Regions from separate parts of the Homo sapiens genome. Here all the other regions are linked to region 2. Evidence: fine-mapped expression QTL. A gene starts in region 2. Each other region holds a variant in brackets. All regions are shown on one strand. Distances are from middle to middle. Region 1 overlaps MAGEA3-DT (MAGEA3 divergent transcript). Region 2 holds the start of PNMA6A (PNMA family member 6A). Region 3 has its middle 25 kb from the start of PNMA6A. Region 4 overlaps ATP2B3 (ATPase plasma membrane Ca2+ transporting 3).

The links.
Region 1: its variant is fine-mapped to the expression of PNMA6A in transverse colon (GTEx, PIP 0.96).
Region 3: its variant is fine-mapped to the expression of PNMA6A in whole blood (TOPMed, PIP above 0.99).
Region 4: its variant is fine-mapped to the expression of PNMA6A in atrial appendage (GTEx, PIP above 0.99).

The regions. Positions count from the first base shown.
Region 1 is chrX:152,548,272-152,556,373 of GRCh38, reverse strand. MAGEA3-DT (MAGEA3 divergent transcript) reads left to right here. Exons shown (of 5, transcript XR_938525.3): 5 at 1,883-1,997. Among named protein-coding and RNA genes, the nearest start is that of GABRQ, 86 kb to the left of the region's middle. The variant G/C (reference allele first, on the strand shown) is at 3,596.
Region 2 is chrX:153,069,189-153,077,290 of GRCh38, reverse strand. It overlaps PNMA6A (PNMA family member 6A), which reads right to left and starts at 4,837. Exons shown (of 2, transcript NM_032882.6): 1 at 4,685-4,837; 2 at 2,272-4,356. The coding sequence starts at 4,228. The coding sequence ends at 3,029. It also overlaps the pseudogene PNMA6B.
Region 3 is chrX:153,093,802-153,101,903 of GRCh38, reverse strand. No RefSeq gene overlaps it. Among named protein-coding and RNA genes, the nearest start is that of PNMA6A, 25 kb to the right of the region's middle. The variant C/T (reference allele first, on the strand shown) is at 4,614.
Region 4 is chrX:153,537,464-153,545,565 of GRCh38, reverse strand. ATP2B3 (ATPase plasma membrane Ca2+ transporting 3) reads right to left here. Exons shown (of 22, transcript NM_001001344.3): 4 at 4,010-4,207; 5 at 3,640-3,897; 6 at 3,118-3,243; 7 at 2,398-2,523. Among named protein-coding and RNA genes, the nearest start is that of ATP2B3, 24 kb to the right of the region's middle. RefSeq lists an enhancer at 842-1,694. The variant C/T (reference allele first, on the strand shown) is at 3,990.

The DNA of each region.
Region 1 (8,102 bases), 520 kb after region 2:
AACATAATGGAAAGGAAGAGGCAAACTGTTATTTTATGTGTTTCTAATTATAAAATCCAAGAAAACCAACCGGAAGACTACTGGAACTTATAAGCACTCAGAGATAGCTGATTACCACATAAAAATCAATAGCTTTTCCATACAGTAGCAAAAGCTGATTAGAAAATGTCATGGTGAAAATATTTCACATTGCAATGGCAAGAAATAGTATAAATACATAAAAATAAACTGAACAAGAAATGTGCCATACTAAATGAAAAATGTTATATTTTGCTGATGGATATAAAGATGGATGGAAATTGAGAAACATACCTGGAACCTGGATGGCATGCAGTGTAGGGTTAGGAATATTGACTCTGGCTCCAGGAATCTGGAGCCCAGCCTGCTCAACTTCAAATCCTGGCTCTGTCACTTCCTAGCAGTGTGACTTTGGCCTATTACTTAAACCTCTTTGTGCCTCAATTTTATTTCCCTGTAAAGTGTCAGTAGCCATAGAGTTAAGGTTCACTGAGGAATCAATGAGTTATTCTACCATGATTAACCTATATAAGGCTGTGTGACCTGCACCCTGCTCTCCTGATTCCCTGTATCCTACTTTCCCTCCTCATTTTATTTTCTATAGCACTAACTACCCTCTAGCATATGATATCATTTACTTATTTTTGTTTGTTTGTTTTGAGGCAGGGTCTTGCTATTACCCAGGCTGGAGTGCAGTGGTGTGATCATCACTCATTGCAACCTTGATCTCCTGGGCTCAAGCGATCTTCCCACCTCAGCCTCCCAAGTAGCTGGGACCACAGGCATATGCCACCACGTCCAGCTAATTTTTAAACTTTTTGTAGAGATGGGATCTCCCTATGTTGCCCAGGCTGGCCTCAAACTCCTGGACTCAAGTGATCCTCCCGCTTTGGCCTCCCAAAGTGCTGGGATTACAGACGTGAGCCACCGCACCAGGCCGTATTTCTTATTTATTGACTGACTACCTCTGCCAAAATATAAGCTTCTTGAGGGCAAGAATCTCTGTTTTAATTTTTTGACATAAGAAATAAAATAAAATATAAATACATGTCTATATTTTTGAAAATATACCCCAAATGCTTAGATAATTTACTTGGCACCTGGCAGGGAAAATAGAATCATACCTGGTACACAATAAGCACTATTATTATAGTAAAGATGTCAGTTCTCCAGAAATTATAAATGTAATGCAACCCAATTAATATCACAGTGAGATGTTTTATAGAATTTGAGAAGCTGATTCTAGAATTCATTAGAAAGAGAAAGCAACAAAAGCGAATAAAACTTTTTAAAGGAACATGGTAGGAGGGGCTCGTCTTGCCATTAATCAGCACAATGACTTATTGGCACAGGAATAGACAAATAGATCCGTGAGATTGTGTGTGTGTGTGTGTGTGGGTGGGTGTTTGTAAAGATAGCATTTCACATGAGTGGAGAATAAACTATTCCATACCTAGTGTGGGCATAATTGACTGTTGGTTATCTTTCTATAAGATCTTTCCCACACCCTCCCAGCTTAAAAGCAATTCCTAATGGACTAAATAGCTTCTGTTTTTGATCATCTACTAACATGATTTTTAAATCAATATTTTCTCATTACTGCTTGCAATGATTTTCAAGTAGTTAAGCCTGAGTTCTGTTGATTTAAGTTGAGTTCCAAATCAAAGGGGCTCTGGTTTTAATTCCTGCACCTGCTACTAATTTTCTTTGTGTCCTTGAGCAAAGCACTTCCCCTTTAAGTGCTCAGTTCCATTGTCTACGAAGTGAGAAGTTTTTATTCAATTAATTAAGATACAGACAAGTTCAACTAACTGTTAGGTGATTTTAAATAATCCTCACAGCTCATTTTCTTCCTATTTTATAGTTGAAGAAACTAAGGTTCAGAAGAACAATGGCCTGTCCAGGATCTCACAACCAGCATCTACTTGTTCCAGTTCAAGTTAGGTTTGGCTGTTAATAACATCACCTGGTGGATCAAGGTAGAGGTTTGGGTTTTTTCCCAGTAAAATCAGCACAGTGTTAGGCAGTCCAAGGATAGTTTTAAGGAAGAAGGGGAAAATAAAATTGACTCAACAACTAGCATTTCGGTTACAGTGGTGAAATCTCACATCCAGGTCTACTGATCTATGTGTGATGCTCTTTTCATTAAATCTATAGACCTGACCCTCAGATTTGTAGAGACAACTTGGAGAGAAGATCAACATAGATTTCATGGAGGGAATGGCACTCGGGTTGTGCCTGCATTGATGGCTAGGAGGTGGACAGTTGGAGCCGGGATTCAGGGAATGCTTTGTTGTGGTGGGAACAGGATGGTCATGGACTGCAAGGGGAGGGGAAAGATGAGGGACAGGGTGTGGCTAAGATTGATTGGGTCCAGCATGGGTAATGGGAGGCTGGCAGTGACCCAGGCTGCTAGTAGTATGGCTTGTAGAGCATAGTTTCTTAAAGACATTAAGACATTATTCATGAAAGACATTATATGCCTGGGGGACCTTGGCATCCCCTGCCCTCAAAAAATTAAAAGAAAACAAACACGGTACCAGCAGGGATGGAACAGGCTAGAGGCTAGGGGATGGCACTTTATGTGGAGAGTTGGCTCAACTCAAAAAATTAGCTCCTGCTTGCCTGTCCAGGGTTGCTGATGTCTCTCCTTTGGGTTCAGGTAGCAGTTCCTAAACTTTGCTGTACATTGGAATCACCTGGAATCATCTTTAACAAACACTGCCCACTGGCTCCTGCCTTTAGAGATCCGATTTGAGTAGTATGGAGTGTAACCTGGGCTTCAAGAGTTGGAAACGCTCTGTAGGTGATTGGAATTCTTGGTCAGATTCGAAATCCACCAGGTGAAGGCATTGAATGCGAAATGTTAACCGTGAATTATATTTGGTGCCATTATGATTACATATAACATTGTATATAATGTTACCTATTATTATTGATACAGTTTTCCATTATATAGGCAGGCTGGGAGACAGTCCCAGCCCAGCCCTGGGCGCTTGCTGCCGCCTTGCCTGCAGAGCCACTAACCCAGAGGGCTTCACACAGTGAGGAGGGTGCCTTATTTGGCAGTATCTAACTCTGAGGCGCTGCATCCCCCGTTAGCACTTTCACAAGATGCTTTAGCACGCATTTGAGGCCTTCCGGGTTGAAAAACCAACAAAAGCAATTGAAAAGATGAATTTCCTGGGATTTAAAAGGTACTTATAATCACATCTCTCTTGCCACCCCCTGCCCTCCCAACTAGTGGGTTGGTTGGTCTCGTTTCAGTTGTGTAAGAGCTCTTTTAGCAGGGAACTAAAAGTCCTGGGCTAGAGTTGGCAGGGTCGGTGGGTAAGGCTTGGCTTGCTCTGGGGGCCAGGGCAGAGCTCTGGAGCCAGGGCGTGTCCATTTGGTCAGGGACCACTCCCCATCCCCGACTTTTCTGGGCTCCACGGGCTCTGCACAGTCAAGCTGTTTCCTGCCTTATCAGCAAAGGAGCTGGAGAAATGGAGAAGTGACAGCCATCTGTGTAAATTAACTCATTACCAGTAAAAAATTTGCAACACCTGGTATAAATTTCGCTGAGTTCAAAGTTGTA[G/C]CAGATAAAGGTACAATTAGGCTGAGAAGCTGCCTATTGGTGGCCGGGTAGGTGAGAGTGTGGGCGAAGGGCTTGCAGAGCCACAGTGGGGCTCTGTTTGCAAGTGGGAGCGGAGGCTGGGAGTTAGTGGCCTGCTGGCCTCCTCAGTGTTTAGCTGAAATTGCTGCTATTGTCAATAGAGATTGACAATTTAAAGAGCTACAAGAGCCTTGTCTGCTGATTGAATTTATTTATCAGCCGCATATTTTTGATCATGAGTAGAGGTGGCTTATCAAAAAGACGCGACGTGATGATGCATAAACCATTTTGTTTTGTTTAGCGAAAGTTGAAGTAAATTACATTTGTTATTTCAGTATTGCCTCGTCAAATTCTCAGGAGAACAATAATTCTAGAGCTCACTCAGAGTAGAGCAGACCAGCTCAATTATTAAAGTATTGAAAGGGAAGGCTGAGCAAGAAAGATTTGCTGTTGTAGCAGTTCCCTTTTCCTGAAGCATTTCCCCTTCAACTGATGGGAAAAAGAGTGAAGGAGAAGGTGCAGGAAAGGAGAAAGGGCAGTTGTTGTTTTGTAGCTGGAGGCTTTTATTTCCCCAGTGAGGGCCAGGTTTGCTGAAGAAAGAGGTCTATCTATGAAGGTTTTGGTCTAAAGGTTAATAGGATGTCAGAGAAAGTGAGAAAAAGGGAAGGCACTTGGAAAAGGATATGAATGACTTTCAAAGAGAGATTCTATTTGATTGTAAAAAAACAGATTACAGGTCAAATAAGTACACAGTAAAGTAATAATGGTTAAAATATACCTAGTTCTAAATATGTGCTGGCAGCTTTCTAAATATTTTACATATATTAACTAATTTAGTCTCAGAATAAGCTCATGAGGTAGAAACTAGTATTACCATCCCCTTAATGGTTGAAAAAACTAGGGCAAAGATAATTTGCTTAAGGTCAAAAGTGAGTATGCAGTGGAACCAAAATTTGGTTCCAGTAGGTATGGTTCTAGACCCTATTCTCTTGATCAACAGTACTCAAACTGTAGTCCTGGACCAGCAGCACCTCCATCCCCTAGGAACTTGTTAGAAACGCAAACTCTGAAGCCCCACCCCAGACCTGCTGAATCAGAGACTCTGGGGTTTGGGCCAGGAATAAGATCTAACCAATCTAATTTCTCTAATTTTTTCTTGGGATCCTCTTTTGCTGTGAGATCCTGCTGGCTGAGGTTACGTATTATTGGTTTTCTATTGCTGCTTTAACAAATCACCACAAACTTAGTGGCTTAAAACAATACAGATTGCAGTTCTAGAGATCATAAGTCAGCTATGGGTCTTACAGGGCTAAAGTCAAATTATGGGCAGGGCTGTGTTCTTTTCTGGAGGATTTAGGGAAGAATTGGATTCCAAGCTCATTCAGATGTTGGCAGAACTTAGTGCCTTGCTGTTGCAGAACTGAGGTCCCCCTTTCATTGCTGGCTGTCTTGCAGGGGCTGCCCTTAATTATTGAAGGCCTCCCTGTGGTTCTTTCACACAGCCTCCTACATCTCAGAACAAGGAACAATGCATCAAATCTTTCTGATGCTGCCATCTTTCTGATTCAGCGAGGGAAGTTTATCTCTCTTAAGGACTCATGTGCTTTGATTGGATCCACCTAAGTGAACCAGCATGCTCTCCCTATCATAAGGTTCACACCCTTAATCATATCTGCAAAGTCCTTTTTACTTTGAATAAGGTCACATATTTACGGTGAATAAGGTCACGTATTCACAGTTTCTGGGATTAGGGTGTGAATATATTTGGGGGTTCCATTATTCTGTCTACCATAAATTACTCGCTTAATATTTTCTATGCTTCCACAAAAAAGGGTGTGTGTGTGTGGTGCTCTACATGTTTTCTTCTTTTTAGTAAAAGAGGGATCTTACCATTTTGTTTTACAACTGGCTTTTTGTTCACTTAACAGCATGTAATAGGCATCTTTCCAAATATTACACATAGTTCTGCCTCATTCCTTTGAAGGGCTGCCCAGTGGTCCAGGAGATGGTTGCATGTTACATCATTTCTTTAACCTACTCTCATTGGTGGATATTTCAGCTGTTTTTATTTTTCATCTCTTTAAATACAGAGACAGTGACCATCATTGTACCTATGTCTGTGCATTTCTATACCTTTGTCTTCCTATCGTCTGTTTTCCAAACAGCAGCCAGTGCATGATCATTTTAAAGCATAAGCCTACTTGGTACCTTTCTTTTTTTTTTATTATACTTTAAGTTTTAGGGTACATGTGCACATTGTGCAGGTTAGTTACATATGTATACATGTGCCATGCTGGTGCGCTGCACCCACTAACTCGTCATCTAGCATTAGGTATATCTCCCGATGCTATCCCTCCCCCCTCCCCCCACCCCACAACAGTACCCAGAGTGTGATATTCCCCTTCCTGTGTCCATGTGATCTCATTGTTCAATTCCCACCTATGAGTGAGAATATGTGGTGTTTGGTTTTTTGTTCTTGCGATAGTTTACTGAGAATGATGATTTCCAATTTCATCCATGTCCCTACAAAGGACATGAACTCATCATTTTTTATGGCTGCATAGTATTCCATGGTGTATATGTGCCACATTTTCTTCATCCAGTCTATCATTGTTGGACATTTGGGTTGGTTCCAAGTCTTTGCTATTGTGAATAATGCCGCAATAAACATACGTGTGCATGTGTCTTTATAGCAGCATGATTTATAGTCCTTTGGGTATATACCCAGTAATGGGATGGCTGGGTCAAATGGTATTTCCAGTTCTAGATCCCGGAGGAATCGCCACACTGCCTTCCACAATGGTTGAACTAGTTTACAGTCCCACCAACAGTGTAAAAGTGTTCCTATTTCTCCACAGCCTCTCCAGCACCGGTTGTTTCCTGACTTTTTAATGATTGCCATTCTAACTGGTGTGAGATGGTATCTCATTGTGGTTTTGATTTGCATTTCTCTGATGGCCAGTGATGGTGAGCATTTTTTCATGTGTTTTTTGGCTGCATAAATGTCTTCTTTTGAGAAGTGTCTGTTCATGTCCTTCGCCCACTTTTTGATGGGGTTGTTTGTTTTTTTCTTGTAAATTTGTTTGAGTTCATTGTAGATTCTGGATATTAGCCCTTTGTCAGATGAGTAGGTTGCGAAAATTTTCTCCCATTTTGTAGGTTGCCTGTTCACTCTGATGGTAGTTTCTTTTGCTGTGCAGAAGCTCTTTAGTTTAATTAGATCCCATTTGTCAATTTTGGCTTTTGTTGCCATTGCTTTTGGTGTTTTAGATATGAAGTCCTTGCCCATGCCTATGTCCTGAATGGTAAAGCCTAGGTTTTCTTCTAGGGTTTTTATGGTTTTAGGTCTAACGTTTAAGTCTTTAATCCATCTTGAATTGATTTTTGTATAAGGTGTAAGGAAGGGATCCAGTTTCAGCTTTCTACATATGGCTAGCCAGTTTTCCCAGCACCATTTATTAAACAGGGAATCCTTTCCCCATTGCTTGTTTTTCTCACGTTTGTCAAAGATCAGATAGTTGTAGATATGCGGCGTTCTTTCTGAGGGCTCTGTTCTGTTCCATTGATCTATATCTCTGTTTTGGTACCAGTACCATGCTGTTTTGGTTACTGTAGCCTTGTAGTATAGTTTGAAGTCAGGTAGTGTGATGCCTCCAGCTTTGTTCTTTTGGCTTAGGATTGACTTGGCGATGCGGGCTCTTTTTTGGTTCCATATGAACTTTAAAGTAGTTTTTTCCAATTCTGTGAAGAAAGTCATTGGTAGCTTGATGGGGATGGCATTGATCTGTAAATTACCTTGGGCAGTATGGCCATTTTCACGATATTGATTCTTCCTACCCATGAGCATGGAATGTTCTTCCATTTGTTTGTATCCTCTTTTATTTCGTTGAGCAGTGGTTTGTGGTTCTCCTTGAAGAGGTCCTTCACATCCCTTGTAAGTTGGATTCCTAGGTATTTTATTCTCTTTGAAGCAATTGTGAATGGGAGTTCACTCATGATTTGGCTCTCTGTTTGTCTGTTGTTGGTGTATAAGAATGCTTGTGATTTTTGTATATTGATTTTGTATCCTGAGACTTTGCTGAAGTTGCTTATCAGCTTAAGGAGATTTTGGGCTGAGACGATGGGGTTTTCTAGATATACAATCATGTCGTCTGCAAACAGGGACAATTTGACTTCCTATTTTCCTAATTGAATACCCTTTATTTCCTTCTCCTGCCTGATTGCCCTGGCCAGAACTTCCAACACTATGTTGAATAGGAGTGGTGAAAGAGGGCATCTCTGTCTTGTGCCAGTGTTCAAAGGGAATGCTTCCAGTTTTTGCCCATTCAGTATGATATTGGCTGTGGGTTTGTCATGGATAGCTCTTATTATTTTGAAATACGTCCCATCAATACCTAATTTATTGAGAGTTTTTAGCATGAAGGGCTGTTGAATTTTGTCAAAGGCTTTTTCTGCATCTATTGAGATAATCATGTGGTTTTTGTCTTTG
Region 2 (8,102 bases):
GGGCGGCGCGGGGATGAGGCCAAGACCCGCAGGGACCACCCCCCCGGGGGGGCGGGGCGGGACAGGGGCGGGGCCTGGCTGCAGAGGCGCGGCCAGGGGAGGAGGGCGGCTGGGGGTGGGAGTGGACGTGGACGTGGACGTGGGCGTGGGGAGGGGTGGGCATTAACCTCGCTCTCGCCCGCTCGCATTCACAGGCTGTGGAGACCTGGGCTCCGACCCCAGTTCATCCCCCCACACCCCCGCCGCCCCGTGCCACCCTGGTCCGCGCTGGGAACCCTATCCTGCCCCTCGTGTCAGCCCGGCACTGGCCAGAATCGCGGGCATGGCGGTGACCATGCTGCAGGACTGGTGCCGGTGGATGGGGGTCAACGCTCGCAGGGGCCTGCTCATCCTGGGCATCCCGGAGGACTGTGATGATGCCGAATTCCAAGAGTCCCTCGAGGCTGCCCTGAGGCCTATGGGACACTTTACAGTGCTAGGCAAAGCGTTTCGAGAGGAGGATAATGCCACCGCGGCCCTGGTCGAGCTCGACCGGGAAGTCAACTATGCTTTGGTCCCCAGGGAAATCCCCGGCACTGGGGGCCCGTGGAACGTGGTCTTTGTGCCCCGTTGCTCAGGCGAGGAGTTTCTCGGTCTCGGTCGCGTGTTCCACTTCCCGGAGCAAGAGGGGCAGATGGTGGAGAGCGTGGCCGGCGCCCTGGGTGTGGGGCTGCGCAGGGTGTGCTGGCTGCGATCCATCGGTCAGGCGGTCCAGCCCTGGGTGGAGGCCGTGAGGTGCCAGAGCCTGGGTGTGTTTTCCGGGAGGGACCAGCCAGCCCCAGGGGAGGAGTCCTTTGAGGTCTGGCTAGACCACACCACCGAAATGCTGCATGTGTGGCAGGGGGTCTCGGAAAGGGAGAGGAGGAGGAGGCTGCTGGAAGGCTTGCGTGGGACCGCCCTGCAGCTCGTGCACGCGCTCCTGGCGGAGAACCCCGCCAGGACGGCGCAGGACTGTCTGGCGGCCCTGGCCCAGGTGTTTGGAGACAACGAGTCCCAGGCGACCATCCGGGTGAAGTGTCTGACCGCTCAGCAGCAGTCAGGCGAGCGTCTCTCAGCTTTCGTGTTGCGGCTGGAAGTGCTGCTGCAGAAGGCCATGGAGAAGGAGGCCCTGGCCAGAGCATCCGCCGACCGCGTGCGCCTGAGGCAGATGCTCACCAGGGCCCACCTTACTGAGCCTCTGGATGAAGCACTGAGGAAGCTGAGAATGGCCGGGAGGTCTCCAAGTTTCTTGGAGATGCTGGGGCTCGTTCGGGAGTCTGAGGCATGGGAGGCCAGTCTAGCCAGGAGCGTGAGAGCCCAGACACAGGAAGGGGCCGGTGCCCGGGCTGGTGCCCAGGCTGTTGCCAGAGCCAGCACTAAAGTAGAGGCGGTCCCAGGAGGTCCTGGTCGGGAGCCAGAGGGCCTCCTCCAGGCAGGAGGCCAGGAGGCTGAGGAGCTCCTCCAGGAGGGGCTCAAGCCCGTCCTGGAGGAATGTGATAACTAGGTTGGGGCTGGGGAGGCAGCCCAGCGCGAGTCCTCCCCGGGCAAATAGGCTCCGAGGGCCCCGGGGCCTCCTCTCCTCCTCTCAGGCAGCAGGGCCCTGGAGACAGGCGGAGGCCGGGCCAGGGCCGGTCCCTCACCCCACATCGGGATCGGGGCCAGCTGTGGCCTGGGTGGGGGCACCTGAAGATGTCTGCCCCCCACTCCTTGTCCTGGGTTGGGAGAGGCAGGGGGAAAGAGGCCCTCTCAAGGGTGTCAGCTGCCTGGGTCTCCCAAGAGCGGTCCCCCACCCGCGGAGTCCTCCACATGGCTCCCGTGTGGGCCTCTGACTTCATGCCCAGGCCCTCCTGGGGCTCTTCCCTGACCTTGGCTTCCAGCCTGAGGTTACACATGTGGCCACTCTGACCCTTCTGAAAGCCCTGAGCGCCGCCCCCCCCACCCCACCCCGCAGTGCTGTCAGGGATCCTGGATACCAGGACCTAGCCTACTGTCCCTCTGCCTGTCTGCAACGTCCAAACCACCTACTCCTGGGAGGTGATCAGCGTGCCCTGGGAACCCAATCAGCCCCTGCTCAAGACTACCACGCCATCCCGTGCAGCCCAGGGGACCACACAGACCCTCAGGGACCAAGCACCCCACACACCCCGATGTTAGCCCAGCCACTGTGGCACCTCACCTCACCTTGTCCCCAGCCAACACTGCACCCCGCACCCCGCACCCCATGCAGTTTCCCACAGCAGAGGCGAGGCCGGCTGGAACACTGAATGAAATTTATTGAAGAGAGATATGTACTGAAACCGTTGAAGAGAAGGGAATCACAACACAGAAGCTGCAAATGGCCACCACAGGACACAGGTCGGGACCCCCCTCCTCCTGGGGGAACACCCACCCCAGGTCTAGGAAACTCAGTAACAAGTAACAACAGGGGTGGAACGCCAAAGCACAAAGTTCACTGGGGAAACTCAGACAGCCCCACTCCATCCCGGGTCCTGTTCTTTCTCCCACAGTCATGGTCACCATCGCTGTCACGGGATGAGTGTCCACTGTGCCCTGGTGCCTTCTTTCCGCCATCTCCCGGGACTGCGCTGGGGTCCTCTGGGGAGGAGCTGCTCAGAGAAGAACACACACGGCTCCACAAAAACAAGCAGCCCCTGGCCTAGATCTACGCAGGGAAAGCAGAGGTGGTGCTCACGATACGGGAGAGCAGTGAGCACAACCTGGGCTCCCAGGAAGCTCACAGCACGTGCCCCTGGCACTGGAGGGGCGCCTCCCCCCACCCCATTTGGTATTAAATGTGGTCATCTGGGTCACCGGGAAGGTGGTGGTGGGCAGGGCCCCTTGGGGGGAAGTGGGGGGCCCCGATCCCGATGTGGGGTGAGGGACCGGCCCTGGCCCCGCCTCCGCCTGTCTCCAGGGCCCTGCTGCCTGAGAGGAGGAGAGGAGGCCCCGGGGCCCTCGGAGCCTATTTGCCCGGGGAGGACTCGCGCTGGGCTGCCTCCCCAGCCCCAACCTAGTTATCACATTCCTCCAGGACGGGCTTGAGCCCCTCCTGGAGGAGCTCCTCAGCCTCCTGGCCTCCTGCCTGGAGGAGGCCCTCTGGCTCCCGACCAGGACCTCCTGGGACCGCCTCTACTTTAGTGCTGGCTCTGGCAACAGCCTGGGCACCAGCCCGGGCACCGGCCCCTTCCTGTGTCTGGGCTCTCACGCTCCTGGCTAGACTGGCCTCCCATGCCTCAGACTCCCGAACGAGCCCCAGCATCTCCAAGAAACTTGGAGACCTCCCGGCCATTCTCAGCTTCCTCAGTGCTTCATCCAGAGGCTCAGTAAGGTGGGCCCTGGTGAGCATCTGCCTCAGGCGCACGCGGTCGGCGGATGCTCTGGCCAGGGCCTCCTTCTCCATGGCCTTCTGCAGCAGCACTTCCAGCCGCAACACGAAAGCTGAGAGACGCTCGCCTGACTGCTGCTGAGCGGTCAGACACTTCACCCGGATGGTCGCCTGGGACTCGTTGTCTCCAAACACCTGGGCCAGGGCCGCCAGACAGTCCTGCGCCGTCCTGGCGGGGTTCTCCGCCAGGAGCGCGTGCACGAGCTGCAGGGCGGTCCCACGCAAGCCTTCCAGCAGCCTCCTCCTCCTCTCCCTTTCCGAGACCCCCTGCCACACATGCAGCATTTCGGTGGTGTGGTCTAGCCAGACCTCAAAGGACTCCTCCCCTGGGGCTGGCTGGTCCCTCCCGGAAAACACGCCCAGGCTCTGGCACCTCACGGCCTCCACCCAGGGCTGGACCGCCTGACCGATGGATCGCAGCCAGCACACCCTGCGCAGCCCCACACCCAGGGCGCCGGCCACGCTCTCCACCATCTGCCCCTCTTGCTCCGGGAAGTGGAACACGCGACCGAGACCGAGAAACTCCTCGCCTGAGCAACGGGGCACAAAGACCACGTTCCACGGGCCCCCAGTGCCGGGGATTTCCCTGGGGACCAAAGCATAGTTGACTTCCCGGTCGAGCTCGACCAGGGCCGCGGTGGCATTATCCTCCTCTCGAAACGCTTTGCCTAGCACTGTAAAGTGTCCCATAGGCCTCAGGGCAGCCTCGAGGGACTCTTGGAATTCGGCATCATCACAGTCCTCCGGGATGCCCAGGATGAGCAGGCCCCTGCGAGCGTTGACCCCCATCCACCGGCACCAGTCCTGCAGCATGGTCACCGCCATGCCCGCGATTCTGGCCAGTGCCGGGCTGACACGAGGGGCAGGATAGGGTTCCCAGCGCGGACCAGGGTGGCACGGGGCGGCGGGGGTGTGGGGGGATGAACTGGGGTCGGAGCCCAGGTCTCCACAGCCTGTGAATGCGAGCGGGCGAGAGCGAGGTTAATGCCCACCCCTCCCCACGCCCACGTCCACGTCCACGTCCACTCCCACCCCCAGCCGCCCTCCTCCCCTGGCCGCGCCTCTGCAGCCAGGCCCCGCCCCTGTCCCGCCCCGCCCCCCCGGGGGGGTGGTCCCTGCGGGTCTTGGCCTCATCCCCGCGCCGCCCCCGGACCCCGGACCCCGGACCCCGGACCCCGGACCGCTGCCCCGCAGGCTGCTTCAGTTCTGTTAGGGCGGACAGGCGAGGGGCGGCGGAGTCTCCCGGGACCCAGCGTCCCCCTCCCCGGGTGGGTCTGATACCTTTTCCCGGGGCAGGGTCCCTCCTGGTCCGGGTCCCCACAGGGCGCGTCGGGGGCTGCGCGCCGCTGCGGCGGCGGCGGGGTCGGGCGCCCCTGGCTCCCCGCGCGGGCGTTCCCTCTGACTGTGCCTCTCCCTCGCTCGCTCGGCGTTTGGGCCGGTGCGCAGGCGCCTGCTCGCAGCCGCTCTCTGCAGTGCGGTCACGCGGCCGGGGTGCGGCGGCGGTGCAGCGCGGACCCCTCCGCGTCGCCGGCCCGGGAGAGCGCAGGGCCGTTGCCGCGGGCGGGTCACGTGGCCTGGCTCTCGCCGCCTTCCCGAGCGCCCCAGGACCCCGGGTGACGTCACCTGCTCCTATCCCCTAGCCCCACCCCCACTCCCCTCGCGCCGCGGGTCCCGGGAACACAGGCGCCAGCCCACCCCCACCCCCACCGGGGTGTCCAAAGGTCTGTGGGCCGCAGGTCCCAGCGCCTTTGGCTCTCACCACAGCGGTTCCTGGTCCAGGCCTCTGCCCCTCCCGCACGTGCCCCGGAGGCAGGCGCCAGCGGGGCGACGGGTGTGCACCCCGGCGTGCCCACCAGAGGGCCAGGGAGTGGTCTGAGGTGCGTCCGGCAGCTCTGCGTTCTGGCCAGGGTCAGGGAGCCGGGTTCTGGGGCCTGTGCACCTGCTCTTGTCCTCCCCCTCCCCGTCCAGGACTGGTCCTCTGGCTGGCAAGGCCAGGCGAGGCCAGGGGCACCTGGTGCGGGTGCCATTCCGTGGAGGAGATGCCCCAGGCGCTCACGCAGCTCACGCACACCATCCTACGGAGGGTCTGCCATCTCCCCGCTGCCCATCCGGCTTCAGGGACCCGCAGCCCTCCGGCCGAAGCACTTTGCTGCCCTGGTGCCAGGAGCCAGCACCTAGGAGGGTGACCCAGCACCCAAGTATGCCCGGGCCTCGTCCGTTTTGCAGCCGCAAGTCCCGAGTCTGGGTCTCTGCCTGAGTGTGTGCCTGGAAAGGTAGTCCGCGCGGAGTGGGCTACTCAATTTGTCCCCTGCCCCCTGTGCCCTCACCAGCCTGATGGGCTCTGGGACATTGCTCTCTTGGCCCTGAGGGCAGCATGGGTGTCGTACCTCCCTGGAGACCTCCGTCTGTCAGGGCCTGAGTCAGCCTTCCATAGGTCCTTCCCCAGTCCTCTGTTGCCGGGGCTAGACACTGCGCCAGGGCAGAGCAGCCTCCGCTCAAAACAGAGATTCTGCGCCCGTGGATCTGACCACCCTGCACCTGACCCATCATGGGAGGCTGGGGCCATGTGAACAGCATCTCCACCAGGCAGGTGGCAAACAGGTTCCCACGGGGTCACACCTCTGGGTGTCGTTCCCTCATCCCCTTCTCTTTCCTTGCCTGACCTCCTGTTTGGCAACTTGCTGGCCAAGGTTTCCCCCAAGCGTCCAGCTCGCCCAAGCTCCTTGCTGAATCACAGCCCCAGAGTATTTGTCTATGACCCTGGGGATGGACATTCCGGTCCTTCCCACTGTTTGGCTGTTGCAGACACTGCTGCCAGTGGCATCCCGCATGCCTGTCTGAGCCACCACCGTCAGCCAGAAAGACTCTGGGGTGCACAGCAGGCAGTGGCTCTGCTGGGACTTGGGCTGTGCCTATCAACGCCACAACCAAGCATTGCTCATCTGTGACCTCCGGTGCGTGGCTGAACCCATGTTCCCTCGCACTGGCAGCGTGGGAGCGGTCCTGGGTTCCTACAGCCCGAGCAGCCTTTGGTCCTGTCCAGCCTCGCCTGCTTGCCCATCCCACGGGGAGAGACACCACCTCATCGCTGTGTGCCTTGCGTTTCCCCGAGCGGTGGCGAGGTCGTGCATCCTCTCACTGGCCGTTCCTGGTTCCTCTTCTGTGAATCTCCTTTGCTCCTTTCCTCCTCATCTCGCAGATGACAGGCGTCATCGGCCCGTTTCCAGGAGAAAGTTCCTAGCGTCAAGATCGAAGCCTTTCTCCTTTTGTGATATAAGCCATGGCCAGTCTATCACGTTGCCCAGAAGCAGGTCGCATTGGAGTGGGCCTCACAATTAGACTTTGGCTTGCCCGTATGGTTGTGAAAGGTTTCAGAATCAAGATGGAGTCACTTGTTGTTCAAGCAAACAAAAATCCAAAAACCTGACAAATAGAGCTGTGGAGGGCCACCTAGGCAGGGTTCCCATGCACGAATGCCTGATAACAAAAGCTATCACGGAAGACTGCAAAACCCACAAATTTGCACAAAGGCTGTTGCAACCTGACACAAATAATACTTCTGTGAGGACACCTGCCCAGCAACTTCCTGTCCAAGCCCCTGACCAATGCTACCCTTGTTATTCATCCTTGTAGCCAAAGATCATTATGTCAAAACAATTATGTAATCCTCTTCACTTGTCCTGAAAAACCTTTGTCTGCCTTCCCCTGCCTGAATATGCACATAGTTCACTAGGGCGCACGCGTCCCCACTGCAGTGCCTATTTCTGAATACCATTCTTATAGGGAGGCTCCCTCTCTGTGTGGTACTTAGGTTGGCATGGTCTTGCTCCCCAGGCTTTTCTACCTCCCAGGTAGTAAACGTGGGGTCAGCGAAGAAACGCATGTCTTCTGTCACAAAGCAGCCTCCCCGGTTGGGCTCGTGTGTCCAGTCCTCCCCGCCCCCCTGCCCCCCACCGCTTCTCCCCCTTGAGGGCCAAGACTGCTTGTTCTCATTCAGGCAAACTGCTGCTCTTTACCTCTGCTGTGAGAGTGTCTGTCTATCGAACCTTTAGTGTTAGACTTGTCACGGCTTATACCACATATTGTCCTCTCTCTTGTTTTCAGCCGTGATTTTTCTGGAGTCCTTCTTCAGAAAGGGCACCGACCCCCCCCCCCTCCCCCCCCCCGCCTCGGCCGCCCCCGCCCTGGGAACATCTGTGGGTCTGGTGTCTCCAACTGGCCCAGCCAGCCCACCGGCCGGCTCGCAACTAATTTCCTGTTTTCGGCCTTGTCTCTTCCCACTCTCCTTCCTTCTGCACCTGCTGACTCCAAGTCCAGGACGCTGCAGGACACCCATTGCCCCCCGCCAACCCCGGGCAAGGCTGGGCTGTGACACGTCAACTGTCTTTCTTTTGTCAGTCCTCTGTCCCCATTGTCTCCACCTCTCAACACAGTTGACTCTCCTTCCTTCTCAAAACCATTTCCTTTCTCAGCTTCTTCCTCTCCCCCACCCCACTTTTGGGCTGACCTCCTCCCTCTCTACCTGCCTCTCTGCCCTTGGACCTTCCTCCTCCTCCTCCTACTTTGCTGGATCTAAGCGTGGTGGGGGCGGGCTCCCAGCCTCAACCCTGGGACATACGGCACCTCCGATGAATGCTCTGTCTCTGGACGTGACCTCTCTTCCAAGCTCCGCACGTACCCATCCATCTGCCCACGTGGA
Region 3 (8,102 bases), 25 kb before region 2:
CCCCTGAGATCTCAGAACTGTAGAGCCACCAGAGTGCAACTCCGGCTTAGGAAAACCACAGGCATGCAACTTCAATACATGAGAGCTGAAACATGCTCTGTTCCCAGCAAAGTCATGGGAACAGGGCTGCTCAGAACCTTGGAGACTGCACCCCCACATCAGTGTGTCCGGAAAGTGGGACATGGAGTCAAAGAATATTATTTTCAAGCCTTAAGATTTATGGTTGTTTTCCCTGTTGGGTTTTGGACTTGCTTGTGGCCTATTACTCCTTTCTTCGCTCCTATTTCTCCCTTTTGGGATGGGAATGTTTATCCTATGCCAGTCCTACCATTGTATATTGGAAGTACATAATTTGCTTGATTTCACAGGCTCATACCTGGAGAGAAATTTACCTAAGGATGAAGCATACCTTAAGTCTCATCTATATTGTCAGGCCTCTGAGCCCAAGCTAAGCCATCATAACCCCTGTGACCTGCACATATACATCCAGATGGCCTGGAGCAACTGAAGAACCACAAAACAAGTGAAACAGTCAGTTCCTGCCTTAACTGATGACATTCCACCATTGTGATTTGTTCCTGCCCCACCTTAACTAATCAATTGACCTTGTGACATTCCTCCCCTGGACAATGAGTCTCAGGAGCTCCCCACTGAGCACCTTGTGACCCCCTCCCCTGCTAACAATAGATAAACACCTTTAACTGTAATTTTCCACTGCCTACCCAAGTCCTTTAAGACTGCCCCTCTCCTATCTTCCTTTGCTGACTCCTTTCTCGGACTCAGCCCACTTGCACCAAAGTGAATAAACAGCCTCACTGCTCACACAAAGCCTGTTTGGTGGTCTGTTCACATGGACGTGTGTAACATTTGGTGCCGAAAAACCCGGAACAGGGGGATTCCTTTGGGAGACCAGTCCCCTGTCCTTGCCCTCACTCCATGAGGAGATCCACCTATGACCTCCAGTCCTCAGACAAGCCCCAGGAACATCTCACCAATTTCAAATTGGGTAAGTGGTCTCTTCACTCTCTTCTCCAGCCTCTCTTGCTACCCTTCAATCTCCTTGTCCTTCCAATTCCAGTTCTTTTTCCTCTCTAGTAGAGACAAAGGAGACACATTTTATCTGTGAATTCAGAAACCCCGACGTCGGTCACAGATTTGGGAAGACAGTCGTCCCTTGGTGTCTGATCTTCACAGGGACACCTGCCTTGATCATTCACCCACACTCCCCTCGTGGCAAGCCAATTATGGGGATGCCTGCTTTGGCTGATCACCCACATTACAGCCCAGGACTCAGCCAGGGACACCTAATGAAAGCCTGGTAGCTGCTCACTTCCCCTTCTCTACATCTCTACCTTTCTCTTCAATTTCACCTCCTTCACTATGGGCAACTTTACACCCTCCATTCCTCCCTCTTCCCCCTTAGCCTGTGTACTTAAAAACTTAAAACCTCTTAAACTAACACCTGATCTAAAACCCAAAAGTCTTATTTTCTTCTGCAATGCCGCTTGGCCCCAATATAAACTTGACAATGGTTCCAAATGGCCAGAAAATGTAACTTTCGATTTCTCCATCCTACAAAACCTAGATAATTTTTGTGAAAAATTGGGCAAATTGTCTGAGGTGCCTTACGTCCAAACATTTTTTACACTTCGCTCCCTCCCTAGTCTCTGCTCCCAGTGCGACTTGTCTCAGATTTTCCTTCTTTCTCTCCCGTCTGCTCCTTCAGTCTCCACCCCAAGCTCAGAGTCCTCTGAATCCTCCTTTTCCACTGACCCTTCTGACCTCTCTCCTCCTCCCCCGGCCGCTCCTCGCCAGGCTGAATCGGGTCCCAATTCTTCCGCAGCCTCTGCTCCCCCACCCTATAACCCTGCTATTACCCCCCCTCCTCACACTCAGTCTTGCTTACAGTTTCATTCCCCGACTAGCTCTCCCCCACCTGCCCAACAATTTCCTCCTAGAGAGGTGGCTGGAGCTAAAGGCATAGTCAGGGTACATGTGACTTTTTCTTTATCTGACCTCTCCCAAATAAGTTAGCGTTTAGGATCTTTTTCATCAAATATAAAAACCCAGCCCAGTTCATGGCCCGTTTGGCAACAACCCTTAGATTCTTTACCACCCTAGACCCAGAGGGACCAGAAGGCCGCCTTATCCTTAATATGCATTTTATCACCCAATCCACTCCTGACATTAAAAAAAAAAAAAACCCAAAAGTTTGATTCTGGCCCTCAAACCCCACAACAGGATTTAATCAACCTTGCCTTCAAGGTGTTCAATAACAGAGAAGAAGCTGCCAAGCAGCAACTTATCTCTGAGTTACAACTACTTGCCTCCGCTGTAAGACAACCCACAACCACGTCTCCAGCATACAAAACCTTCAGAACATCCAAGCCACGGCTCCCAGGGGCTCCTTCAAAACCTCCTCGTGGACCTTGCTTCAAATGCCAAAAGCCTGGCCACTGGGCCTCGGAATGCCCACAGCCCAAGATTCCTCCTAAGACATGCCCTGTCTGTGTGGGCCCCCACTGGAAATCAGACTGTCCAACTCACATCGCCGCCACTCCTAAAGCTCCTGGAGCTCAAACCCAATATTCCTTGGCTGACTCTTTCCCAGATCTCCTCAGCTTAGTGGCTGAATACTGATGCTGCCCCATCATCTCAGAAGCCCCCTGGACCATCACAGACGCCAAGCTTCAGGTAACTCTTACAGTGGAGGGTAAGTCCGTCCCCTGTTTAATTGATACAGGGGCTACTCACTCCACATTACCTTCTTTTCAAGGGCCTGTTTCCCTTGCCCCCCATAACTGTTGTGGGTATTGACAGCCAAGATTCAAAACCCCTTAAAACTCCCCCACTCTGGTGCCAACTTGGACAACATTATTTTATGCACTCTTTTTTTAGTTACGCCCACCTGCCAGTTTCCTTATTAGGCTGAGATATTTTAACCAAATTATCTGCTTCCCTGACTATTCCTGGGCTACAGCCACACCTCATTGCTGCACTTTTACCCAATTCAAGGCCTCTTTCACATCCTCCTCTTGTATCTTCCCACCTTAATCCACAAATATGGGATACCTCTACTCCTACCTTGGCAACCAATCATGCACCCCTCATCATCCCACTAAAACCTAACCACCCTTACCCTGCTCAGTGCCAATATCCCATCCCACAGCAGGCTTTAAAAGGGTTAAAGCCTGTTATCACCCACCTGTTACAACATGGCCTCTTAAAGCCTACAAATTCTCCTTACAACTCCCCTATCCTACCCGTCCAGAAACCGGACAAGTCTTACATGTTGGTTTAGGATCTTCGCCTTATTAATCAAATCGTCCTTCCCATCCATCCTATAGTGCCAAACCCGCACACCCTCCTATCTTCAATACCCCCTTCCACAACTCACTATTCTATTATCGACCTCAAAGGTGCCTTCTTTACTATCCCCTTGCATCCCTCCTCCCAGCCTCTTTTCGCCTTTACTTGGACTGACCCTGACACCCACCAATCCCAACAACTCACCTGGATTGTTCTGCCCCAGGGCTTCAGGGACAGCCCACACTACTTTGGTCAGGCCCTTTCTCATGATCTGCTTTCTTTTTGCCCATCTGCCTCCCACCTTATTCAATATATTGCTGATCTTCTTCTTTGCAGCCCCTCTTACCAATCTTCCCAGCAGGACACTATTCTGCTTCTTCAACATCTCTACTCAAAGGGGTACCGAGTATCCCCCTCCAAGGCACAAATTTCTTCCCCTAGCATTACCTATATCAGTATAATCCTCCATCAACATACACACACCCTTCCTGAAGACATTGTTCAGTTCATCTCCCAGACCCCAATCCCCACCATCAAACAACAACTCCTTTCCTTCTTAGGCATTGTTGAATATTTCCAACTCTGGATACCAGGCTTTGCTATCTTAACCAAACCACTTTACAAGCTCACAAAGGGTAATTTAACTGATCCCATAGACCCTAAGTCTTTACCCCATTATTCCTTTCACTCTCTCAGAAAGGCCCTGGAGACAGCTCCCACACTAGCACTCCCCAACTCATCCCATCCTTTTTCCTTACACACAGCTGAAATACAAGGCTGTGCTGCTGGAGTCCTCACACAGGAGCCAGGCCCACGACCTGTTGTCTTTCTATCAAAACAACTTGACCTCACAGTTCTGGGCTGGCCCTCATGTCTGCGTGTGGTGACAGCTGCCACTTTAATACTTCTAGAGGCCTTCAAAATCACAGGCTATGCTCCACTTACCCTTTACAGTTCTCACAACCTTCAAGCATTAATATCCTCCTCACACCTTTTACATTTATTGTCTGCCCCTCAACTCCTCCAGCTATATTCACTCTTTGTTGAAACTCCAACAGTAACTATTACACATGGGCCTGATTTCAACCCAGCTTCTCACTTAGCACCCAAAACAAGTCCTGAACCACATGACTGTATTTCCCTAATACACTTAGCATCTTCCCCTTTTCCTCATATTTCTATTCTTCCAATTCCAAACCCAGACCATACTTGGTTTATCGATGGCAGTTCTTCTAAACTCAATCAATTTTCACCAGCTAAAGCGAGATATGCTGTCATGTCCCACACCTCTATTATCGAAGCTG[C/T]TGCACTTCCTCCCTCCACCACTTCCCAACAAGCTGAACTGATTGCTTTAACTTGTGTGCTCTCTCTCACTAAAGGAATGCACATTAACATTTATGCTGACTCCAAATATGCTTTCCACATCCTCCATAACCATGCTGCCATCTGGGCCAAAAAAGGCTTCCTTGCCACATAAGGCTCTTCCATTATCAATGCCTCCCTCATAAAGGCCCTCCTTAAGGCTGCTCTCCTGCCAGCCAAGGCTAGAGTCATTCATTTTAAAGGACACCAGAAACCTACTGATCTTATTGCAAAAGGAAATGCTTATGCCAACAGGACAGCAAAAGAAACAGCCAATGTTTCCACACCTGCTAATATTCCAGCCCCCACTCCAGAGGACCAGTATTTTTCTTTCTCCTCTATCACTCCCACCTACTCTGGTTCTGAAAACCTCCTCTACCAGTCTTTTCCAACTCAGGGCAAGTGGTCCTTCGAGCATGGAAAATTCATTCTTCCTGCCTCACAAGCTCAGTCCATTCTTTCTTCCCTTCATGACCACTTCCATGTGGGATACAAGCCTGGCTATCCTCCTGCAGCCCCTCATCTCCTTCCCTTCATGGAAATCCATCCTTAAGACCATCACCTCTCAATGCTCTGTCTGCCATACCACCAGCCTCCAAGGCTTTCTCAGGCCTCCTCCTTTTCCTATGCATCAGGCTCATGGATTTACTCTGACACAAGATTGGCAGATTGAGTTTACTCATATGCCCTGTGTCCGTAAATTTAAGTATCTCCTGGTTTGGGTCAACACCTTCACCGGGTAGGTCGAGGCCTTTCCCAGTAGCTCAGAAAAGGCTACTGCAGTCTTCTCTTCCCTTCTAATAGATATAATTCCCCGATTTTGCCTCCCTACTTCTGTGCAATCTGACAATGGTCTGGCTTTTATTAGTCAAATCACCCAAGCAATTTCTCAGGCTCTTGGTATTCAGTGGAATCTTCATACCCCTTACCATCTTCAATCTTCAGGAAAGGTAGAATGGACTAATGGCCTTTTAAAAACACACCTCACCAAGCTCAGCCTCCAACTTAAAAAGGACTGGACAGTACTTCTACCACTTGCCCTTCTCAGAATTAGAGCCTGCCCTTAAGATGCTACAGGGTACAGTCCATTTAAACTTTTATGTGGACGTACTTTCTTGCTCAGCCCCAAACTTTTCCAGACACCAGCCCTCTAGGTGACTATCTTCCAGTCCTTCAGCAGGCTAGACAGGAAATTCGCCAGACTGCTAATCTTCTCTTGCCTACTCCACATTCCCAGCCATATGAAGACATCTCTTTTAGTACACCCTCTCACCTCTTCACTTTGCACTTCCAGTTTTGCCTTACACAAGGTCTCTTTTTCCTCTGTGGCTCATCCACCTACATGTGTTTTCCTGTTAATTGGACAGGCGCATGCACACCAGTTTTCCTTACTCCCAAAATTCAATTTGCAAATGGGACCGAACAGCTTCCTGTTCCCTTCATGACACTGACACAACAAAAAAGGGTTATTCCACTAATTCCCTTGCTTGTCGGTTTAGGACTTTCTGCCTCCACTATTGCTCTTGGAACTGGAGTAGCAGGCATTTCAACCTCTGTCACAACCTTCCATAGCCTCTCTAATGACTTCTCTGCTAGCATCACAGACATATCACAAACTTTATCAGTCCTTCAGGCCCAGGTTGACTCTTTAGCTGTGGTTGTCCTCCAAAACAGCTGAGACCTCGACTTACTGCTAAAAAAGGAGGACTCTGTATATTTTTAAATGAAGCGTTTTTTTGTTTTGTTTTGTTTTGTTTTGTTTTACCTAAATCAAACTGGCCTGGTATATGACAACATAGAAAAACTCAAGGATAGAGCCCAAGAACTCACCAACCAAGCAAATAATTACACTGAACCCCCTTGGGCACTCTCTAATTGGATGTCCTTGGTCCTCCCAATTCTTCGTCCTCTAATACCTGTTTTTCTCCTTCTCTTATTCAGACCTTGTGTCTTCCGTTTAGTTTCTCAGTTCATACAAAACAGCATCCAGGCCATCACCAATCATTCTATATGACAAATGCTCCTTCTAACAACCCCACAATATCACCCCTTACCCCAAAATCTTTCTTCAGTTTAATCTCTCCCACTTTAGGTTCCCGCGCCACCCCTAATCCCACTCGAAGCAGCCCTGAGAAACATTGCCCATTATCTCTCCATACCACCCCCAAAAGTTTTCACAGCCCCAACACTTCACCACTATTTTGTTTTGTTTTTCTTATTAATATAAGAAGACAGGAATGTCAGGCCTCTGAGCCCAAGCTAAGCCATCATAACGCCTGTGACCTGCACATATACATCCAGATGGCCTGGAGCAACTGAAGAACCACAAAACAAGTGAAACAGCCAGTTCCTGCCTTAACTGATGACATTCCACCATAGTGATTTGTTCCTGCTCCAACCTAATTAATCAATCGACCTTGTGACATTCCTCCCCTAGACAATGAGTTTCAGGAGCTCCCCACCGAGCACCTTGTGACCCCCTCCCCTGCTAACAATAGATAACCACCTTTAACTGTAATTTTCCACTGCCTACCCAAGTCCTATAAGACTGCCCCTCTCCCATCTACCTTCACTGACTCCTTTCTCGGACTCAGCCCACTTGCACCCAAGTGAATAAACAGCCTCATTGTTCACACAAAGACTGTTTGATGGTCTCTTCACACAGATGTGTGTAACATAAATCTGATTTGGATGAGATTCTGAATTTTAGACTTTTGAGTTGATGTTAGCATAAGTTAAATCTTTGGGGAATATTGGGATGAAATGAATGTATTCTGTATGTGAGAAGGACATTAATTTTGTGGGCCAGAGGGGCAATGCTATGGACTGAATGTGTTCCCCAAAGCTCATGTGTTGCATATAATCCCCACTGCAACAGCGTTGGGAGATAGGAACTTTTGGACAATATTTAAGTCATGAGAGCCTAATGGATTAATGCCATTAAATAAAAAGGGTTTGTTAGAGTGGGTTTGTGCTGTTCTGTTCTTCTGACATGTGAGGACACAGCATTTGTCCCCTTTTGCCCTCATGCCTTCCACTATATGCTGATGCAGCAAGAAGGCCCTCACAAGATGCTGGTGCCTTGAGCTTGGACTTCCTAGCCTCCAGAACTGTGAGAAATAAATTTCTGTTCTTTGCAAATTACCTAGCCTTAGGCATTTTGTTATAGCAGCACAAAACAGACTATGACAATAACTTATAGTTTGCATCGTGTTACTAACTTCAAGATTGTTTTATTATAATTCAGTTTTGCACCACATTTTGGCAAGAAAATTTAACTTTGGCAAGGAGATAGGAAATCCCTCTCCACTTCTCCTCAGGCTAGGAAATGTCCCACACATAGTTCTAAAGCCCACAGCTCCCAGTATTTACTGTCTAAGCTGCCTCACTGGTGACAACATTCAATTATTACAAGGCAATCCCTAAAAGGA
Region 4 (8,102 bases), 470 kb before region 2:
CCAAGTAGCTGGGACTACAGGTGTACACCACCACGCCCAGTTAATTTTTGTACTTTTAATAGAGACGGGGTTTCGCCATGTTGGCCAGGCTGGTCTCCAACTCCTGACCTCAAGTGATTCACCTGCCTTGACCTCTCAAAGTGTTGGGATTACAGGCATGAGCCACTGTGCCTGGCCCCAGTGTGTGTTTTAAAGGGACAAAGGAATGAGACGCTAGGACTCTGCGGGGCGCTTTCAGGTCATTGGTCAACCCAGGGCTGCAGCACAGGAGTGCCAGCCTGAGCCCCGGCACACAGCAGCCCTGCAAGGCCAGGCTGGGCCCCAAGTGGCCCTATCCAGGGGCTCAGGTGGTGGGCACAGTCACCCCTTCTGAGAGCTGCAGTTAGAGGAGCTTCCTGGGGGCCACATCTGCACTCCCAGGCAGTTGGGGTTGGGATCCGGGGTCCCCAGGGAGCAGGGAGGGCCCCCCCCCCGACCCTACTCAGCCAGGGGTGGGGCATTGATCAGGCCCTCTCCGCCCAGGGTTCCTGTGGGCACAGAGGGCCCTTCTTGCAGGGAGGGGAGACCCCCACGGACACAAGATGGCAGTGCGATGACCGCACAGCACAGCAGGGGAGATGGCAGAGCCTTGGGGCCGTGGGGGCCCGAAGGAAGCATGGACTCTGGACCCAGCCTGCACACAGGCCCTGGGAGGCCTCTGGAGGAGGGAGGCAGGGGGAAGTCTGGGATGAGCATTGCTGGAAGAGGAGGGCTGGGCCCCGCCAGAAGAGACAGGAGTGGGGGGAAGGTGAGGAGGAGAAGCACACTTGGAGAAAGGTGCATAGGAGTCAAGGTCAAGAGACAAGAAATAGGGGGTTGGGTGCAGGTAGAAGGCAAGTATCCTAAGCGTGTACCTGGCAGGCTGCGCCAAACAATGGGGATGGGGCGGGAGAGACGGGGAGGGCGAGCAGGGAGCCCCCTGGTCTTGCTGGTACCCTCTACCCAGCTGGCCAGCTGCTGCTCTCCCTCCAGGGCCCCCTCAGGGTTCTCTTCCTCCAGGAAGCCCTCTAGCTCTGACTCCTAAGTAGGACAGCCTGAGGGTGCTGGAGAGGAGGGCCAGGTGGGGCCTGGGAGGGGCTGAATGGTCTTGTCAATTTAAAAAAGAAAGGAGAGGCCTGGAACAGTTAGGAAGGACACACTCATTTAAGGTACAGAGAAGGTGAGCAGCCTGAGAAGGGCGGCTGGAGACTCCAGAGGAGCGTGGGTTCCCGTGGACGATGGGAGAGGGCCATTGTGTGCAAGACATGAGGAGGCAGCCCAGGCAGGGGCAGCTGGGCTTCCCAGGACAGAGGCCTAGGGACTCCAGCCCAGCCCAGACGAGGCCCAGGGCTGCCCATCTGCCTGCGCACCCCCAGGGCACTCACTGGGGTGAGACACTGCACTGAGCCCTACAGGACTTGGTGCCACAAAGAAGAGCCGGTGCAGGGAGACACAGGCCCAGGCTGCCAGGAGGCAGGGCTCGTCGAAGCTTCTAGGCCACAGAGGGTCATCCAGCTACTCCTTTGCTGCCTCCAGGGAGCTTTGGGCTCAGGGCTGACCTTTTCCCCGGGCCCTGACTGCCCGCCCCACGCCCCCACGCCCCCACACCCCGCGCACTGGCCCCAGGGCCCTGGCTGGAGGTCACTGGCAGGAAGCAGAGCTTTCCCATGCGGGTGTGGCTCCCTACCATGTTTTGGCTGCAGGAGAGGCCAGAAGGCAAGTCCAGGCCAGAGCAAGGCTGCCCAGCCAGAAGGGGCTGTGGCAGCCATTCAATCTTGTCCATCAGGGCCTCCCTGAATAGTACTCAGGTTAGAAGGTCTGAGGACTCCGCCCGCTGCAGGGCCTGATGGTGGCAGCTCCAGCCACAGGACGAGGAATGGGCCCTCCTGGCTCGGGCTTGCCTAGCTTTGTAAGCCCCAGGGCAGGGCCACCACCCACAGTTGGGCTGCCCGGCCCTCACCTGTCCCAGCCTCCTCTGACCTCTGACCCCCACCTCCCTGGCTGCCTCCCACGCTGGCCTGGGATCCTCGGCACCTTACTGGGCACGGGCCCTGAGGGTAAGCATGAGGCTCCCCGTAGCTCCTGTCCCTCTAACGCCATTCCTGTCCAGGTAGGTATGGGATCCCGGAGCCTTTGGGGATGGTGGTCTCAGGGAAACTCCCCGTCCACGGCACTGGAGGGGCCCTTGGCCTGCCGGCTCTCAGGGGGGATATCCTCAGAAGAGGAGTCTCCACGGAGAATCAAAAGAGAGGGCCCGGCCTCCCACCCACTTGGGCTGGCTCTCCCTGAGCCCCCAGTGGCACCGGCCCGCAAAGAAAGAATGGGCAGCGTGGAAGGAGCCGCCACCAGCACCAGGGACTGGCGGCACTGCTGCGCTACCTTTCTTATCTTTCTTCTCTTCCTCCTCTCCGCCAGCTCCAAGCAGCGTGAAGATGATGCCTGTCTGGGAATTCACGCCAACGGCGGTCACCACCATTCTTCCAGAACCTTCCATGACATGAGTGCCTGGAACAGCAACACAGAGACTGAGACAGGAATTTGTATCACCCAGTGGGAGACACATTCAGCGCCCACAACCTGTCTCCCAGGGTCTCCCGGAAGCAGGGACGCGGTGTCCACCTTAAAACTAGGCTGAAGCCTCCTCCCTGGCTTGGAGGAGACCCCGAGGCCCACAGGGCCCACCTAGGGCCTCCAGCCTTCCTGTCCCGTTTCACACTACGTTTCCAACTGGGATAAACACCGGACTATGCTGAAACCTTCTGGAAAGGGAACACTACCCCCACTGGATATTGTCGAGGGTCTGGATTGAGAGAAGCACAGCGCTGTGCTGGCCCCTGCAAGCCTCTCCGCTTGGGGCTTCCCATTCAGGACACAAAGCACTCTCCCGGGCCTGGAGGGCCAGCTTCCTCGCCCTGTGGCTGGAGCTGCCACCATCAGGCCTCAAGACGGGCGGAGTCTTCAGATTCCCAACCTGAAGGTTATGCTGGAAGGCCCTGGTGGAGGTGGAGGCTGAGCCCAGCAGGCAGCCTGGACAGGATGCTGGGCCACACGGCTGCTGACGCCCCTTGGTGCCAGGCTGGCCCGGAGGGTGGCCCTCACCTGAGAGCAGCATGGGATCTTTGTCAGCTGACTTGCGCACGTGGTCAGACTCGCCCGTCAGGGAGCTCTCGTCGATCTTGAGGTCATTGGCCTGGATGAGCACGCCGTCGGCTGGCAGCAGGTCGCCTAGAGCACCGGGAAGCAGAGGCCTTTCTCCCCACCGCCTCCTCCCGGCTGCCCCAGGGGAGGTCCCGTCAGGTGCCATGGGCCGCCTGGGAAAGGGACTCAGGAGCCCTCCTCCTTCTGGGGAACGAGGACATTTGCATCCTTTGTAGGGGGGAAAGCCCGCCGTGGAGGCTGTGGGGACAGTTGATTCTTCGGGGGCCTGCTGTGTCTGAAACCACTCTGCCCTGCCCCGTGTTCCCCCACCTCCCCCACCCCCGCCACCTCCCGCCTCCTAAGGCAGGTGACGACACGCAGGCCACCGGGGAGAACCTGTGCTGGGGGTCTCCTCTGGCTCACCCTCCCCAGAAGCAGGAGCCGAGCTTCCTTGACAGGGTGGGTGAAGACCAGGGCACTCACCGTACTTGACCTGGGCAATGTCCCCCACCACCAGCGCAGCCACGGGGACCTGGAGGAGCTGCCCGTTCCGGATGACCGTGAACTTCTGCTCCTGCTCAATTCGGCTCTGCAGGCCTCGGAACTGCTTCTCCTTGCTCCAGTCATTGAAGGCCGTGACCAGCACCACACAGATGACGGACAGCAGGATGGCAGCCCCCTCGATCCAGCCAGCTTCGGCCTCGCCCTCATCTTCTGCGCCTCCCGACACATTCCCACAGGCTGTGCGGAGGACAGAAGGGAAGCAGTGGAGGAGACATCACCATCCTGTGACCGTCCCTCATCTCAAGCCCCATTCCTCTTCCTCCTTCCAG[C/T]CCAGGCCCCCGGGCCTTACCTTCACTCTCCTCTCCTGGCGGCGCATAGAACGAGAGGCCCAGAGAGACGATGGCAGCCACCTCCAGGATGATGAGGGTCACGTCCTGCAGGGCCTCCCACACCAGCTGCAGGAAGGTCTTGGGTTGCTTTGGGGGGATGAAGTTCTGCCCGTAGATCTGCCTGCGCTTCTCCAGGTCATTGGTGTTGTCCGCCAGGCCTGCATGGTGCCCCGGAAGCACAGAAGGGGAGGATGGGATGGGACGGGTCGGCCTTGTGTGTCCCAGGCCTCCTATGTGGCCCTGACTGACTGCTCCTGGGGTGGCAGCAGCCCTCTGGGGCCGTCTGGCCAGCGCCTGGCTCTCCCTCTAGACAGGAGCCTTTCTGCAGACTGCTGGGGGTGTGCACGTGGGAGTGAGCATGCGGCTCTCTGGCTGCTGTCATGGGGAGTCCCTAGCCATCCTCCTCCTGACACACAGATGACAAAACAGGCCAGGAGGCTCCTGGACTCCAGCGGGTCCCAGGTCCCTGTGCTTTCCTGGCCACCTCCACACTACCGCTGAGGGGGCACTGGAAGGCAGGGGACAGGACCCAACAAGGGGGCACAGAGGGGACCCAGCAGGGTATGTCCAGGTCAACAAGGGTTGCTAGGAGACAGGACAGAAGAGTATAGCCAATGGTCCCCTGGGGAGGAGAGCGAGTGTCCAGGGGACTTTAGTGGAGACATGGGGAGGGCCACCAATCAGGGGAGGCTGGGATGGCACCAGATGCCAAAGACTAGGCCAGGGCTCTGTGCCTGTCAGGAAACACCTCTCTAGCTCCCAGCCTATGAATTCCCTGAGCAGGCTTGTCACCAACACCCCCCTCCCCAGCTCTGTAAGATGGGGCCAGCCGGTCCCAAAGACTGGCAGTGTCACACAGCCCAACCTGTGGGGGCAGGGACAGCCTGCAAAGAGGGTGGGCAGGGCCCGAGGGATTGGGGCATGAGCACGGCCAGTGCCGAGGAATCAGCAGTCTCCAGGGTGCCTGTGGCTGCTGGCAACAGGGAGCGGAGGCTTACTTTCCAGAAGTTTCTCGGGGAAGAAGCAGTGGGGAGGGAGCATGAGAGCTAATGGGAGATGCAAGTTCTTGGGTCCAGAGACCCAAAGAAGAAGAACGGTGTCACGCGAGGAGAGAGAGAGGCACGGGAATGGGAGTGGGTTCCTGGTGGGGAACAGGCGGGGAGAAGCCAAACCGGAGTCACGGTGCTGAGGGAGGGGACTGGGAAGTCTTCAAGCCTTTTCTGGGCTGCATGGCCTCGCAGGGGTCGGGGAGACACTGCCCACCCTGGGCTGCTCATCAGCTGCTCTCTGCAGGGTGCAGACAAGGCCACTGAGGCCGGAGGTGGAGAGGGCCCTGTAACCATGAGTCAGAGCTCTGGCCTGTGGCCCAGGTCAGGACAGAACCTACGCTGCCCGACAGGACCCGGTGAGCACAGGGCCCTCAGGACCCAGCAGCCTTGGTTCTAATGCAACTCCAGCACCAACTTTGATCCCTCAGCCAGGGCTCACAGCTTGTCTACATGGCGACTTGAATGACACCCAAAGCCACTCAGAAGCCCCCAAATTGGCTTTGCCTTCACAATCAGAGCCACCTGTCCCTATCCAATTCTGTCACTTGTCATCCTTGAGGACGCTTACTTCTCAGTCTTCCTTGGCCTGAAGGTACTGGAAGCTTACGTGCGTGACTGGCATCCGGGCCTGGACACCCACTCAGCCACCTTCTACCGGGGCAGGCATGTGGGATGACACCCTCCTCTGGCCCCACCCTTGGCCCCAGGATTCTCAGCCCCGGCTGATCCCGAGGAGCCCTCCCGGGCGCTCACCCGGCGCCCAGTGCTGTCGCGGCCGTGACCAGACCCACACTGACACCTGGTGGACAGACAGCAGCTTGCAGCTCCCAGCCCTGGGCAGCTGGGCTCACGCCTGCCATCTGCTGCAGGGACGGGATGACCAGAGAGCCCAGCCCCAGCCCATGGGGCACTCACAGTGGGTCTGGGAAGGCACACAAGACCCTCCAGATGACTGGAGAACAGGCGCATGCTAACCTTGGGGCTTCTGAGGAGGGGCAGGGGTAGCCCTGGCCGCAGTGGAACAGAAGCTGCCGCCCGCACAACCGTGGCTCATTCACCCCAGCTAGGCGACGGCCACATGGCGTCCTCCCCACCCAGAAGAGCCGCAGCTGTCCGTGCCTCTCTGCCCCTGGCTCAGGTTTCTTCAGGAGCCAAAGGCCTCTTGCTGAGGCCCGAGCCTGCCCCAATCGGGAGCCTGGGGTTAACGCACGACCTCAGCTCCTGGGTGGTGGGGAGGGGGCTGGGGACCAGGGACCCAACTGAGGGGTGTGCACCTCGCTCTGGACTGGGACTGTCTCCTGGAATTACAGGAGCTAAGCCAGGTGGGGACAGTACTAGGGAGTACAAGACCCCCCAAGTGACTTAAGAAGAAGCACGTGCTAACCGTGGGGCTTCTGCGGAGGGAGAGGAGCAGGGGAGGGCTCCCCAGACACCTGGGGTCTCCACTGCCCTTAGCCTGGAGCCTCCATGCGAGTCTCTCTCCTGCCTGCCCCTCCTCACATGCCCAGTTTGTCCCTGAGAGCAGCCGGGACCCCTGGCCCATTCCCCAGGAGCTCCCTCGCCCTCGCCAGCCTCTCCCTTGGCCTTGACCTGCCCTTGCAGCTGTAGCCTTGCTCGTTTCTCCTTAGCCTTCCTGTGGGCTCGGGGTCCCGACGGCTGCCCCACTGCAGCACCCATTGACGGGGAGGAGGAACACAGCTGCGGCCCCTCTGGCTCTGAGCACATGCTTCCCCAGCAGGCCCGAGGGCAGTCCAGGTCCAGGGCATGGGGGCAGGGGCTGGCCGGTTGGCATGGACACAGATGGGCGGCCTGCCCGGAGCAGAGGCCAGATGCCATCAGAATTGGATTAGGAGCATCTCGTGTCGGCTCCCAGCGAATCCGCCCCCTCCTTTCCAGAACTGCCTGTGGAGCCCAGAGGGGCACTGGGCGGGGCCAGGTTCCCGGGCGAACCCACCTCTGAGTTCAGCCTGAGACCCAGGTTTCCTGACAACAGCAGCGCGGTTTCCAGGATGGGTTCTGGAATCCTCTTGGAGTGCTCCCAAGACAGGGAGGGCAGTGGATTGATGAGTGTACCGCCAGAAGATAAAGTCCCCTTCCCGCAATGCACTATGCGCCATAAAGCACCTGCCCCACGGGGGAGTGCCTGCCTCCTGGGCAGCCCCACGTCTGCCCACCTTGTCAGGGGATTGGCATGGGGCTTGGGGCACAACAAAGCCAGCTGCCCCCGTGGCTCAGGCCCTTGTGTCTGAGGAGGACTGAGGGGCAGGCAGGTCTGAGCACCAGGGTCCGGGTGCACGGCCGGGCTAGGGGATGCGGGGAGCGAGTCACCCGCTCCTGGCACCCAGACAGCTCAAGCCCGACAGCTCCAGCCCGAGGACCTTGAGGGTTGAAGAGGGGAGGGGCCGGTCCTCTGCTGCTCATTCTGTGGGCAGCAGATCCAGGCCTGGCCGGCTCCCTGCACTGTGGCCTTGGGGACCCAGGTGCTTGGAAGCCCGTCAGAGGCCAAGCCACCCACCTGTGCACCTGCCCTTCTCCGTGCCCCTGCCTCCACAGGCACGCAAGAGCTCCTGAGCTCCATGGCAGAATCGGGCAGGTTCCCAGGGGCCTTGACATTTTAAATATTTAACAAGGCCTGGCAGACAGGGGAAGAGCAGACAGCTGAGGCCCATCTGCTTCCTTTGATCTGGGAGAGGCCAGAGCTCTTGTGGATAAATGGCCCTCCACAGCCTCCTCGGGGGCTGGGCAAGGAGGAGGGAAGGCAAGAGATGCTCGGGAGCAGAGCCAAGGCATCAGCCCCAGCAGCAGCTGCACCGTGAGGGCGTGTGCGGCGGCGAGGCCGGGTGTCACGGGCGCATCAGCTCCAGGGCACAAAGCTAGGGAGACCCAGGCAGACCCTGGAGTTCCTGACCTGGCCCGCAGCCCCCCTCCTCCATCTTCACTCCTCCCTGCAGCCTGAGTGCCACCTGCAGACAGACGGGGCCGAGGCCGGAGCCACAAGAGAACA